Linked DNA regions of Homo sapiens. The protein of the gene in region 2 interacts with the protein of the main gene of each other region in a biochemical or structural test. Each region holds a gene or a part of one and is shown on either strand. Other genes may lie near its edges.

Region 1 (7,034 bases), on a different chromosome or scaffold from region 2:
AGTGTTGCGATCTCGGCTCACTGAAAGCTCTGCCTCCCGGGTTCATGCCATTCTCCTGCCTCAGCCTCCCGAGTAGCTGGGACTACAGGCGCCTGGCTAATTTTTTTTTTTTTTTTTTTGTATTTTTAGTAGAGACGGGGTTTCACCATGTTAGCCAGGATGGTCTCAATCTCCTGACCTCGTGATCCTCCCTTCTCGGCCTCCCAAAGTGCTGGGATTACATTGAGCGCAATTTCTTGATCTCCACCTCTCTCCTAAGATTCACATATCTCTCATACCCATTAGCTTTGATTTACTGCCCTTATTATCTCTTCCCATTTTCTCTCTACCACCCTCCCTGGTTCTTCAATGTTTTATGGATTTGTAATAATTCAATAACAAGTAGGATGTTATGTTCTCACTTATAAGTGGGAGCTGAATGATGCAAACACATAGACACATGGAGGCGAGCAACATATATGGGGCCTGTCTGAGAGTGGGAGTGACAGAAGGGAGAGCATCAGGAAGAATAGCTAGTGGATGCTGGGCTTAATCCCTAGGTGATGGGATGATCTGTGCAGCAAACCACCATGGCACACATTTACCTATGTAACAAACCTGCACCTCCTGCACATGTCCCCTTGAACTTAAAACAAAAGTTGGGAAAAAAAGAGTAGGATGGTAAACATCATTCGTGTAAACCCTACCCATCAAAGAAAGGAATCCATGTGGTTCTCTTGTCACCAGGATGTTTCTATCTTTTCTCCTTTTCTTTCCTTTCATCCAAGGCTGAAGGTATTGAGCAAGAAAAGACTTTCAGTTCTATGACCTGTGCCTCAGGTAAGAGTCCATCTTCATAATCATAGTGAGATCAAAACCACAAAGGGGTATAAACCTCAAGTTACAATGCACATTCATTTTATCTCCCAGTTTTCAGAGTGTTCCATGAAAGTCAGCATAATACTAAATATTTCTTTATGTATGTTTTACAGATGAAGACATTGAGCCCAAGAGAGCAAGTTAATGTGACTCAGGTGGTACAGACAGGACTAATACCTGGGCTTTCTTGGTTCATACGTAGCCCTTTTACCTGGATAGCCCAGTGGCTGCTCACTGACAAGCCCAGCTGCAGAAGCTTAGAGTGTCCCAGGATGAGGTAGAAAGAGAGCAGGGTTAGCCGGGTGTGGTGGCTCACATTTGTAATCCCAGCATTTTGGGAGGCTGAGGCGGGAGGATGACTTGAGGTCAGGGGTTTGAGAACAGCCTGGCCAACATGGTGAAACCCTGTCTCTACGAAAAAAACAAAAATTAGCCAGGCCTGGTGGCGGGCGCCTGTAGTCCCAGCTACATGGGGGGCTGGGGCACGAGAATCGCTTGAGCCGGGCAGGGGGAGGTTGCAGTGAGCCGAAATCACACCACTGCGCTCCAACCTGGGCAACAGAGTGAGACTCTTAAAAAAACAAACAAGCAAACAACAACAACAACAAAAACTAAAGACAGCAGGGTCATGATAAGTTTGAATCCCAAGAGATAGTCTCTAAAACAGCTGCTGACAAAACATATAGCATTTCCTACCCATCTCACTAAAAATGTGTGTTTTCCGTGTAGAAAATAATTTACATTTAAGTTCATCATATCATTAAGAAGTAGTTGTAGCTTTTATACAGAACCGCCACATTATTAGTTCTATGTCCACAGTGTATACAGCACTGTATTTGTCATTTGAGAAGGACTAATTTAAGGTATATTCATGTTATCTATTTATAAACATGGGAATCCATTCAAATATAGTGTAAGGGAGGCAGTAAAATAACTTGTATTATCATGGTTATAAGTCTTAATATTGCTACAAAAGTGGAGAGCGATAGTTCCCCCACTAAGTCTTAGGCTTCTTTTAGAAAGCTACTGAGCACAGCCATGCAAAAATATAGTTAAATGAGAAGAGGAAGGACTCTGGAAGTCACACAGTGCCAAAAGCAATTAGACTATCAAAGGTAGTCTCATCATTAAGTCAAATTCTTATTCCTTGCACCCAGAGTTCCACAAGGAGATATAATAATATTACTGCTAACTCTAATAATAAAATAACTGCAATAATAACAATTGCTCACATTCGTTGAAATTGAATATGTTGCAGATACTGTTCTGAATGTTTTACATGTGTTTTTTCCTCAAATCATCACAATTTACCCAAGGTCACAAAGCAGGGCCAGTACCATATCCAGGGAGTGTGGCTCTGAAGCTCTCACTACATTATAATCACTAAATTATATTGTAATCATAGATGTCCTCCTTTAACATGGGCTGTCTGTTTCTAAAGGTGCTAATGTGTCTGAGCAGTTGTCCTTGAAGCTCCCATCAAATGTGGTCAAAGAATCTGCCAGAGCTTCTTTCTCAGTTCTGGGTGAGTCACCTTCCATTTAGTAAACCTGGGCCAAAAGAGTTGCCACTGTACATCTTATCTACGTATTTGTATTTGAATTATCAAGTTCTTGATAGCTGCTATTCTTTTTTATTTTTTTGAGATGGAGTCTCGCTCTGTCGCCCAGGCTGGAGTACAGTGACGTGATCTCGGCTCACTGCAAGCTCCGCCTCCTGGGTTCACGCCATTCTCCTGCCTCAGCCTCCCGAGTAGCTGGGACTACAGGCGCCCGCCACCACGCCCGGCTAATTTTTTTGTATTTTTAGTAGAGACGGGGTTTCACCGTGTTCACCAGGATGGTCTCGATATCCTGACCTCATGATCCGCCCGCCTCGGCCTCCCAAAGTGCTGGGATTACAGGCGATAGCTGCTATTCTTATTAGGATTCTGGAAGTCACACTCTGTGTATATAACTTTTCTCTTACCTAAATGATAGACTCTGAATATAAAGGCCATTTTTGTTAATAATGTTGGCTATTTATGAACTGAAATTATTCTGACATCTAATCTTTCACATTCCCCAGGTGACATATTAGGTTCTGCTATGCAAAATATACAAAATCTCCTCCAGATGCCATATGGCTGTGGAGAACAGAACATGGTCCTATTTGCTCCTAACATCTATGTCTTGAACTATCTGAATGAAACCCAGCAGCTGACGCAGGAGATCAAGGCCAAGGCCGTTGGCTATCTCATCACTGGTAAGTGAGACAGAGAAAAATTTACTTTGTTACTCTAATGAAACTTTTCCCAATTAAGCTTCAGTTATATCATCAAATATTAACCCATGATGATAATTTTTATGAAAACAACAATCTTCCCACACTCTAATAGGATGTTGTGTTTGATCTATCCATAACATTCACAAAACTATGGCAGATCACAGAAGGTCATAAAATGTCCATGGCGCCTGGATGCATGAGCCTAAACATATGGATGGCCTGCCTTTCTTTAATGCTTCATGAACAATCTGAAGCCTTCCATTTCAGGTTACCAGAGACAGCTGAACTACAAACACCAAGATGGCTCCTACAGCACCTTTGGGGAACGATATGGCAGGAACCAGGGCAACACTTGGTAAGAAAGAAAATCTATTCTGAGTTTCAACTATGAGTTCAGAACGTGCACATAGATTACCTGTCTTAGTCCATTTTCTGTTGCTTATAACAGAATACCTGAAACTAGGTAATTTATAAAGAAAAGAAATTTATTTCTTATAGCTATGAAGGCTGATAAGTCAAAAGTCTAGGGGCCGCATCTAGTTGAGAGTCTTCTTGCTGGTGTGGACTCTGAGGAGTCCCACGGTGATGCAGGGCATCATATGACTAGAGGATTGAATGGGCTCACTTGGGTCTCTCCTTCTCTTCTTTTCTTTTCTTTGTTTTACTTTGTAGAGACTGGGCTAGCATCTCCTCCTCTTCTTATGAAGCCACCAGTCCAACTGTCATGATAGCCCTTTAATCTAGGAATAGATTCATCCATTCATGAGAGCAGAACCCTCATGAGCCAATCACCTCTTAAAGGCTCCACCTCTCAATACTACCACATTGGGGATTAAGTTTTAACATGAGTTTTGGTGGAGAAACAATTTCTAAACCATAATGTTACCTTATTTAATTCTTATAGCTACCCTGGGAAGTGAGAGTTATTAGCTTCATTTTACAGAGGAGAAAACATATTCAGTGTGGATAAATAAATGTGTCAGGAGCAAACATCTAATAAGTGGCAAAATTGAGAACACTTTTAGGTTGATTTTTTTAATCCAATATACCCAGACCCTCTTCCTTCTCATGTTGCTAAGGGAACATTATAGGTTTGTAACTTGCCCCCTTAAATTGTTGCTCAGCCCTAAGAGGTGTTAGAAAAATGCTAGAATAAAACCACAACCATTACTGGCAGAGCATACCTTACTACCTTCTACTAGATGATATCCTTTCTCTCTCTCTCTTTGTAGTTTTACCACACAGGCAAACACAGGGGAAAAAAGTGGAAGGGCAGGATGATGGAGGGAAATATTTACTGAAGCAGAACATTAGAAGTTAGCTGATTAGAGTTAAAACTACAGAAAGTAAGCTAAGAAATCTAGGAAAGGAAATAAATTCATAGAGCCCACAGTGTAAAAGCAAATGACTTAGTTAACCAACCAAGAAAACTGGAAGGAACCTGAACCTCTGAAGTGGCATAGAAATGCTTTAGGAAGCAAGGACAAGCTGGTAATGAATTGAACAACATGTGGCAGCAAAAAAAAAAAAAAAAAGAAAAGAAAAGAAAAAAGAAAAAGAGATGTCTAAGCTAAAAAGAAAAAGTCTCCAAACTCTCAGTAACAGCTGATTGACTTTCTTGGGTGCACACTGTGATGGGGGAGCCTGTGTGTACAAAACAGAGCAGTAAAGTGCTCAATGAAAAGAGCCTCAGCACTGCATTTTTCCTCCCCCTAGGCTCACAGCTTTTGTACTGAAGACTTTCGCCCAGGCTCGATCCTACATCTTCATTGATGAAGCACACATTACCCAATCTCTCACGTGGCTCTCCCAGATGCAGAAGGACAATGGCTGTTTCAGGAGCTCTGGGTCACTGCTCAACAATGCCATAAAGGTGAACTGTTCCACAAACTTCTGAGCCTGACACACATCAACATAACATCCCCCAGGGGTGAAGGGAGGAAGGAGGCACAAGGAAATTGCAAAGATGAAGTCCTGGATGATGTGGGATGGCATCAGGGAAAGAGTATTACACTTTCTACAGAGAAGGAAGAAATTGGGCCAGATGCAGTGGATCACACGTAGAATCACAGCACTTTGGGAGGCCAAGGCAGGTGGATCACTTGAGCCCAGGAGTATAAGACTAGCCTGGGCAACATAGCAAGACCCAGTCTCTACAAAAAACATTTTACAAAATTAGCCAGGCATGGTGGCCTGTGCCTGTAGTTGCAGCTACTTGACAAGCTGAGGCAGCAAAATTGCTTGAGCCTAGGAGCTTGAGGCTGTCATGTGTGATAGTGCTACTGCACTCCAGCCTGAGCTACAGAGCAAGAACCTGTCGAGAGAGAGAGAGAGAAGGAAATGGTATACTTTGAATGGAAACAGATACTGAGGAGCGTTTCCATCAAACAACAGAAGAGAATATACTAACACTTGGCACTGGAATTAATCAAATCAATGTTGTATTCACAGGGAGGTGTAGAAGATGAAGCGACCCTCTCCGCCTATGTTACTATTGCCCTTCTGGAAATTCCTCTCCCAGTCACTGTAGGTACCAGCTCAATCCCATTCCCTACCATGAAAACTGTAGATTTGCTGTCTGGAATGCCACCCTGCTAAGGGTTGAGTCTCAAGTATCTTTTGGTTCAATGATGAGGGATTTCTCAGACTGATAAGCTCTTTGGTTGATGCATTAAGAGAGATTTACACTTGCCCAGTAATGCCCATAGACTATGTATCAAAACCAATCCTAAAAACAGGTTCTCTAGTCTTATTCTTTAAGACTGAACTATAAAGGGAAGAGATCGAAATATTTTTCTATTTAAATATGATGAATATCTAGCTGTCTGCCTATCTGTCTGAAATCTATTAATAACATCTGACTGTCAATATCCAGCTCTCAGCTTGCTCTGCCCTCTATTCACCCTAGTTTGACACAACCACATTTTGCCTTTACAGAACCCTATTGTTCGCAATGCCCTGTTCTGCCTGGAGTCAGCCTGGAATGTAGCAAAGGAGGGGACCCATGGGAGCCATGTCTACACCAAGGCATTGCTGGCCTATGCTTTTTCCCTACTGGGAAAGCAAAATCAGAATAGAGAAATACTGAACTCACTTGATAAGGAAGCTGTGAAAGAAGGTGAGAGCACTTATAAGTGGGAGCTGAACAATGAGAACACATAGACACAGGGAGGGGAACAGCACACATTGGGGCCTGTCTGGGAGGTGCGGAGAGGGAGAGCATCAGGATAGATAGCTAATGCATGGGGGACCTAATAACCAGGTGATGGGCTGATACATGCAGCAAACCACCATGGCACACCTATGTAACAAACCTGCACATCCTGCACATGTACCCCAGAACTTAAAATAAAATAACATTTAAAAAATAAATAAATAAATAGATAAATAATAAAAGTTTTTTTAAAAACTGTGCAAAAAAAGGTGAGAGCAAACAGCAAATGGTACCAAATTTCCATTTCCATTTACACTGATTCTACAAAAAGAAGAAATATATTCCTTCTGAAATCCACAAGCTTCATCTGTAATTCCTTAGCCAAGTCATACATTGTGAGATCAGAGCACCTCTTATAAAACTGTCTTCTCTGGGATTGCATATGTTACACAGAGCAGAACATAATAGACATAATGCTGCAGATAAATAATGCAGTTTTATTTCTACTTGCTAAAACCAATATAATAGACAAATAGATTCATTTTCTCATGATTTCTCTCTACTTACTTGAATGAAAAGAGGTACAACAGCTCTTCCATACCCCCTAAATTCCCACCCAATGCCGTCCTGGCTGCACCATGCTCACTTCATGCTCTGGGCTTCTCCTAAGCTAGTGCTGCTATAGTCTCCTTTCAGCTACCATCATAATTATCTACCAGGATCTCATCAGCCACGCTGAGATGTTCTCTGACATTTA
Region 2 (8,033 bases):
TAAGAGAAAATTACCAAGATGGCTATATTATCTATTTAGGCAAGACACAGAGACTTTGCAAAGGCAGCCAGCAAGTATACAGGGCATGGAAAGGGGAGGAGAGAAATGAGCAACCAATGAAAAGTTTATGACTTGGGATTTGGAATACACAAATGTTGAAGAGGTTCCCCCCACCCCGCCCCCACTTTTCTTTTTCTTCTTCCTGGTATTTAACCCTCTCAGGTATCAAGTGGATGCTGCTGCCCCTTTTCTTTCTTTCTTTCTTTTTTTTCTTTTTTTAAGAACTCTGAAATCATTCTACACTGTCTGTTCCCTTCCTCTGCAATAAATCATTTCACTCCTATTGCTACTGTATGCCAGCTGGTTTTGAGGACACTGTTCTCAGAGAAGCCAGTAAAAAAAAAAAAAAAAAATACGGCTGTCGTCTACTCTGAGTTTTAGGAATGCATTGAAGTAACTGCAGGAAGCCTACGAAAAGGCAGGAGCAGGATAACAGACCCGTAAGAAAAATGATCTGCTACACTGGAGATGTGAAGAAGGCAGGTTTGAGTGTATTCTGAAAAATAACGTGAACAAAACCTTTTAAAACACAGTCAGAAACGGAGTTGTCCTTTCTACACTCCAGGTTAAGTGAAAAGGGAACGTGGTTATAGGATTTTGCCTTTGGGTAATGAAACACCTAGTGATAGCAAATGATACATCAAGGACTGAGGGCCAGGTAGGTTTCTCGAGGGGTCTCCAAACCGGGTTTTGTCTCGGCGATGCTGACATTTTTAGGGTAGTTAGAGACAATAGAGAAGGCTTGGGGAACCAGCTGATAGGTCAGCACGGAAAGGGGGCGCCTTCCGGAGAGGCTAGTTTTGAGACACTTTTTTTAACCCTTCGTGCACCAGTTCGGCGCGCTCCACGCCAATCGGAGCAAAGAAAACAAACCTACCAAGATTCCTCAGTTTAACTCTGCCCCTGGGAGCACCTCTAGTTTGACAGAGTGGGGCTGACTCCTAGCTGGTGGCCGACTAAAGAACTTCAGGGAAGAGAAAAAGAGAATAACGCCTTTTAAAGCACCGAATTGTTAGGGGGAAGGGAAAGATGGAGAAAATAAAGTAGAAAGTAAACATTTTAAAGCCTGATGGCCTCAAGCATACAACTGAAAAGGAGGTGGTGGGGTGAAGGACAGGAGAACGGGAAAAGAGCGAACGGGAACCGCGAGAGGGAAGGGCGATCCCGGGAGCTGCTGCGGTTTTGAGAGCTCCGGGCAGAGCTAAACCTCAGGGGATGGAAGTCAAAATAAGTACTTACTTTCGGAGGGGAAGAAGGGCGGCATGTCTATTTTGTAAACCTCCTTGGCGTAGTACTCTTCGTCGCTCCTCTCGCGCTCGCAGGCGGCCGCCCTCCGGCTCGCCTTCTCCTGGAGCAAGTCCCTGGTGCTGTTGTAGATGGAAATCACCTCCGGGGGGACTTCCTCGGGCTCAGGATAGTCTTCTGGGGGACTGGTGAGCTTCAGCTTGCTCAGGATCTGCCCGCGGATCGCCTCGATCCTCTTGCGCATGAACTGGTCCATATCGAGTGTGCTGCAGGTAGACAGGCTGAGCGCGACCGTGACCAGATGCAGGATCAGAAAAGCGCTCAGCACACAGTAGTGCATTTTTTAAAAAAGTGGAAAAAAAAGTTGTTTTTAAAAGTCAGAATAAAAAAAAGAAATCAACAATTCTCAAAGTATAGATCAAGGAGAGTTGTTTGGTTTTTTGTTGTTGTTGTTTTTGATGCGAAACTTTTGCAAACAATCTAGTCAATGCCCAACAGAAAAACGTATCCTGCTTGAATTCCTTTAAAAAGAAAAGGCCAGTAGTTCCAAAAGTGGAAATATTAATACGGGACGGGCAGAGGGAACCCTGACTTTGGCGAGTAAGAAGAAAAAAATTCTTGGAGCAATGAGATGGGGAAAAAAAGAGACGAGTGGCTATTAAGTAGAAATAAATTTAAGAGGAGGAAGTGGAGTTCAGTGTGTCAGTCTCGGGTGCGGAGTGGCGGATCTGAACTCGGCTCCTCCGGCCAAAAGGGAAGAGATGAAAAGGTCCCGGGGCTGGCAGCTGGCGAACTGACGGGAGGGGCGCCGGGAGCGCGGTGAGGGGGGCCGCCGAGGCTGACCTGGGCTGAAATTTATATATTTAAAGAAGGAGCGGTTCGGTCCTGCCTTCCACTGCGGCGCTGAGAGCAGGAGCAGCAGCAGCTCCGGAGCAGAGAAGCGCACACGTGTGTGCGTGCGTGTGTGTGTGTGTGTGTGTGTGTGCGTGTGCGCGCGCTGGGGGCGAGCCCAGCGCACCGCGGGGAGGAGGGTGCGCTTCGCAGGGCGCTCGGTACTCGGTCGGGTGCCGCAGGGGCCGCAGAGGCTGCTGAGGCGGCGCGGATCCTGCTCTGGGAGCTGCGCTCCGTGGCCTACACCCTGGCGGGCGCGCGCTGACCCGCTTGGTTACTCCACGTTGCTGCCGCCGCCGCTTGCAAACGCTTCCAGCCTCCAGCTCCCTCCTTCTCCTGCTCCTCCTTCTCTTGCTCCAAACGCCAACCCAGCCACAGACGATCAGCCGTCGCGGTTGCGTTCACCCCCTGCGGATCACAACGGCAGCCCTTGCGACACCCTGGCTGGGGAGTTTTATTCCTGAGGGGGTTGCGCAGGGGCTCCCTTGGACTCCCACCCTTTCCCAACCTCTGCTGGCTTCTCCCCAACGTGGAATTGCTCGCTTAGGGTAGGTAGGCACTTGCCACCCTAAAATAGATCCTCTCTGTCTCCTCCTGTCTGCAGCCGGGCAGCCCCTCAGTTTGTTCCTGGATGACTCCCTAGACCGTCAGGCTAATATTCTCCATCCCCCTCCCCTGCCTCTTTCACTTGCGCTCTCGCTCTGCTGTCTCTTTCTCTCTTTCTCTTTCTATCTCTATCTCAATCTGTCTTTCTCTTGTCAGGAGCTTCTGGAGCTCCGCTCGGAGCGAACCTTCTGCTGCCAGCAGATAACATCACGATCTTGCCGGGGAGGGGAGATTTATAAGTTCTCTCTGAACCACGTGTCTGCCTTCAACAAAGTGACGTGCTAGGATTACAGTCAGAAGTCCTCTCGTTACTTAGACCACGAGCTCTCCCCGAACCGTTGAGGGAGTGTGGAAATGAGGACCGCTGTGGGTAAGGGAGGAAGGAGGTGGAATGTGCGCCCTGACAACAGTGATTTACGGTATTTACTTTCCAGTCATTTTGGACAGGTCTGTTGAAGGAAGGACAATCAAGTCTCCCGTTTTTACTTAGTGTAGCTCAGTCACAGCCTCCCAAGCTGAATCACTTGCTCTAGAAGGGAAGGCTTCCCTCCTGTATTATGTGTGCACACGCACCCCTATGGGAGGGAGCACTAGTCTACTCAGGGCCAGGCCAGTACTGAAGACATACCTTCCAATCTTTTAAATTCATGTCCTACCTCTTATTTTCTGGGATACCTTAGCAGGTTGCCATCCCAGAATTTATTTTGTTAGTTTGTTGTTTACAATGTACCCCTCTGTTTGTGAACTGCTGGAAAACAGAGATCCATCAATTTTACCTAAAGAATAAGGTATACTTGTTTGTTTTACTGATTTGAATGAATGGTCACCTTTATAATTTGCTGCCTAAGCCACTTCTTGTATGGCTTTCTTCTTCACCTTCTTGCTAGGCTAAACATTATCAACCAACTTCATTCTTTCCATAGCATTAATCCAGGAAGCTGGAATTTTAAGTGTTTGATGTCTACTGTTCTACACTACTCATAACTTGACATTTTCAATTTCAACTAAGTCTAAATTAGATGAATACAAGAATAACTCTTACCACTGTTCCACCTTCCCTTTTTCTTTTATTTTACCTTTAGTTACTCAAAGTCAACATTTTCATTTCGGCATGACTCTGCAGCCATACTGACCAGACAGATGATTTAAACTGGAAACTCTGTTGAATGTACTCCCAAACCCAAGATCTCTATACTGTTCTCTACTTCAGATGTTCCTGAGTTCAGAAAAGTCACAAAGAACTTTCTATCACTTTTGGAATTTATACTTCAGTTGTGTATGGGGCCTAGGTTATTAGTAGAGCACTGAATAAATAAAATAATAATAGCTAACATATACTACACTTAGTAATTTGATGTGTGTTGTGTATGGTCATTTAATCTTCACTATGAACCTATAAAGTGGGTCTTATTATCCATATCTGGCAGATGAGGAGACTGAGGTACAAAGAAGTTAAGTACTTTGTTCGAGACCACAGTAAGTGGTAGAGCTGGATTTTTGCAGTCAGGATCCACTATGTTCTTACCTACTATGTACTTCTGAGAAACAATGGTCCCAGAATATGTTCTGACAAACAGGAATTCTGGAGTCAAACAAGTTTGGGAGATACTGGGTACTCTCCTGTCCTCTTAGATTCCTCATTCTGGAACATTATCATGTTAAAGGCTCTGAAACTCCTGTAGAAGAGAAAACCTTTTCACTCTTTTAACCCAGCATTTTCCAAACTCCCTTGAATACAGAATTTTTTCCATTATCACACATTGAAAAACTCTGGAATAAAATAATTGTTCCAACCCACTTCTGAATAATTCTAAAAATTATGTATAAATCAGCACCAGCAGGTTCCTTTCCTTGATACCAGTTTTGAGTTGAAGCAAAGCTACCATCCCAGTAGCCCAAGAAAAAGATAATCAAGAGGCGCTACTGTCAGACTAGTAGTTTCATCCAGTTAGGTCCTCCCTCTGAGTTCAGTTTGAGAACTGCAGTAGGCTAGCTCTACAGATTGGACAAAAAGTGAATATTCTTACACCTGTGGCCATTATAGACACAGAGCAGGAGCTCCAAACCAGAGCTACTGAGAGAAGATGCTGCTGTGGAATATGGCTGGTTACCTGAATTAGCTATCACTGTATTTTGCTGAGGATACAGGTTCAGCTTCCACAAGCCAGTGAGCATCTTTCATGTTTATAGACAACCTTCTTGGTACAGACACTGATGCACCTTAAGTAGATTCAGATTAGAGTGTGGATAGAGTAGCAAAAGTTCATTTACATCACTTCTAGGAAAACAGCGCAAGCCATAAATTCTGATGGCCACCCCTCTTCCTGACATAGACATACACACTTTTGTTCATAATACTTAGTTTACTGAGTACCTATTGCTCACTTAACAACTCCTTAGACCTGAGACCCCTGACTTACTCATAAGAGGCTACTTTAATTTCCCCAAAGCCCAGGAGGGTAAGACGGGAGGTATTGGTAAAAGCTTCTGGAATGGGTAAGTGCAGTAAGTGAGTATAGCAGGAGAGGAGGAGCCCCTTTCCACCTCTCAAATGATCAGTTCTTTGAAGACCTAACCGGCAAGATTGCTAGAGCTGTCTCCCTGGTAACCGTAAATGAATCATTTCTTCTATTAAATGGCTCTTATAATGCCTTTTCATCTCTATATTTAATGGAGGTCTTATGTGCCGGGGTCTCTACAGTCTTCATGGTAAAAGGGTATTTAAATGATATACACCCATCTTGATTACTTCAAGGAGGCAGGAGAGCACAGTGGTTTAAAGGGCAGGCTCCAGTCATGGTTTTTTGGGTTCAGATTTCTGTCACTTTCTGGCTTTGTGATCCTGAACAAGTTACTCACTGACTCTGTGAGTTTCTTATCCTATCATGTCTTTATTTCTGTCAAGGAATTTATAATAAAAATATCTGGCCTTCTCTCTCTCTCTCTCTCGCTCTCTCTGAAAAGCCAGGAAAGAACCCAAGAAGAATTTGCTTCTAGTTCTGCCTCCTAGTAGTTTCTGTAGGCACATTTTAAATATTATGGTATTTTGCCCCCAGTAATTATAGGAGGGAAGGACAAGAAAATACACTTTTGGTGAATAAAATGCTAAATGACTATCAAAGTTCAGTTAAGCATTCACGATTAAAGTCTCTTATTAAAGCCCTCAAATGGAATCTTTTGTTTTGAAATTACAGAGGTAGAGAGTGGAGCTGTTTCCACTCTTAGCCATTCTCCACTCATCAATGGGTCTATTCACTTAAGTAATGTGGGATTTCTACAAGAGGCTGAAGAAAACAAAACTACTCATCCCTGTCCTGGAGTTTTACGCCTATGGATCATAGGTCCTTACTAACATTGACCAAAGCATAACTTCATTTGTAACAATTCTGGAAGCTTTCCAGAACGGTTTCAAGCATGAAAAATCAGGAGGTGAAAAAAAGAAATACATGGAACGACGGTAATTGATTACATTTCCCCCCAAATAGTGATACTTGATAAATGCAAAATAACCCTTTAATATGAAAATACACCAAAAGTCTTTTAAGATTTTATTTATAATTTTATATTTGATACCACTATTCAAGAACAATGTTTGGTCTATATCAATTTTGTCTCATGTTCTAGATGCATTTCTATAAACAGCTTTATTTCATTATTCTAGTTATGAATAATGAAACAGAAAGGTGGTTTCCTTACAAAAAATAATCCGATTATTATTTCCATTTGTATTTAAAGGTTAATCTAAGGAAGAAGTGTTAAGGAAAAATGAGGAAACAATGGGCGGGGAGGAAAATGGAAACAGGGTGGGTTTAAAGAGATCAGAGGTGGTAAAAGATAAAGAGATAGGACCAAGAAAAACCACAGCATATCAGCAGGTTGTGAGGCTTTAAAGAGATAAACTCATCACACTAATGATACACTGTGGGAACATTATCTCACCCTTTGGAATTATGATTAGTTGATTGATTACTGCTTGTGGCTTTTGGGCCACTCATAACTCTACAATTTTAGCTCTCCAGGAAAGTCTTTCTTTGGGAGGCAGTCTCACAGTGGCCTGTGCTATGTCATCCCTGTAGCTGCAGCCTCTGGTTTCTTGCCCCTGGTGAAATTCACCCACTAAGATAGCATTTAGTAACTGATATAAATAAATGAACATATGGTAATAGTTGGGACACAGCATAACGCTATGGATAAGTGCTTAACAAAATCCTAATGTTGACAAAAAGAAACCAGCAGCAGAATTTTCCTTATTTTTTAGGGCAGTACTTGACACTCACCTTTACAGAATCTCTACTCCTCCTTCATTTACTCTGTCACCACAGAAGTTCACAGATAGACTTCACAAAGCAAGAAACCAGAATGAGGTTGCTGGGGAGAAATGGAGAGAGTGTTTTGGCCAACTAAAAATAAACACAAAAGATGAGAAAGAAAAAGAGAAGGTGAGTGATAGAGAAAAATATGACTGTGTTCTCATAATTAAAATGAGTATAATATAACAAAAGTTTTTTTTTTTTTTTTAAAGATACATGGTCTTTAAATGAATTTATGTGTCTGTCATCATCTCAGTGGGCTTCATAGATTGGGTAAAATTCCAAATGTCTAAATTTCCACTGCCAAAATTACCAACCTACATTTCAAACAAATATGCCGTTCTGCTGCCTCGATTAGCCTGCAATTAAAAAAAAAATAAATAAATAAAAACCAAGGGTCAATAGTAATTGCATAAAAAAAGAAAACCTCAGTGTAGTTTATGATAGAGGGAAAAATTAGTAAATAAGTATTTTTAAAAGCCTAAGTATGTAAGTATTTTGAAAAGCACAGCTATATAGATGGTTATAATTTATAAAACGGGAGACTACAGACCACAAACTCTCACTGATGATTATTTGAAATCTTAGTAGAAAATAAAGTTCTCATAACTAGGGTAGCTACATCATTTGTCACACAAATCCAAACATTTTTTGCAGTAAAGAGGATGCCACTCATTGATACACTAAGACAACAGGGGTAAATCAGGACTCTCCCAGATAATTACCTTATTTAAAATGAAGCCACTTTAAATCTGTAAGAATACATCTGTTAGTCTTTCACCTTTTTTCGGTTACAGTGGTGATATTATATTTTGCATACTTCCAAGACCTTTTTTTTCCTTTGCCTATGCAGCATATTCTAAAAATCACCATCAGAGATACATTTTGAAAATGCTACTTGCACAATTTTAGCATTAATAT

Evidence for each region. Proteins that work in one complex are often made in the same cells at the same time.
Region 1: the proteins of TGFB2 (region 2) and PZP form a complex in vitro, tested with the Homo sapiens proteins (one study listed by BioGRID).

The regions. Positions count from the first base shown.
Region 1 is NC_000012.12:9,156,382-9,163,415, reverse strand, and holds part of PZP (pregnancy zone protein precursor), read left to right. Parts: intron 1-767; coding exon 768-819; intron 820-971; exon of another isoform or gene 972-1,135; intron 1,136-2,299; coding exon 2,300-2,383; exon of another isoform or gene 2,384-2,384; intron 2,385-2,925; coding exon 2,926-3,102; intron 3,103-3,390; coding exon 3,391-3,478; intron 3,479-4,839; coding exon 4,840-4,996; intron 4,997-5,574; coding exon 5,575-5,649; intron 5,650-6,060; coding exon 6,061-6,241; intron 6,242-7,034. UniProt on the Homo sapiens protein: Is able to inhibit all four classes of proteinases by a unique 'trapping' mechanism. This protein has a peptide stretch, called the 'bait region' which contains specific cleavage sites for different proteinases.
Region 2 is NC_000001.11:218,340,314-218,348,346, reverse strand, and holds the start of TGFB2 (transforming growth factor beta-2 proprotein isoform 2 preproprotein), read right to left. Parts: upstream 3,012-8,033; 5' UTR 1,646-3,011; coding exon 1,300-1,645; intron 1-1,299.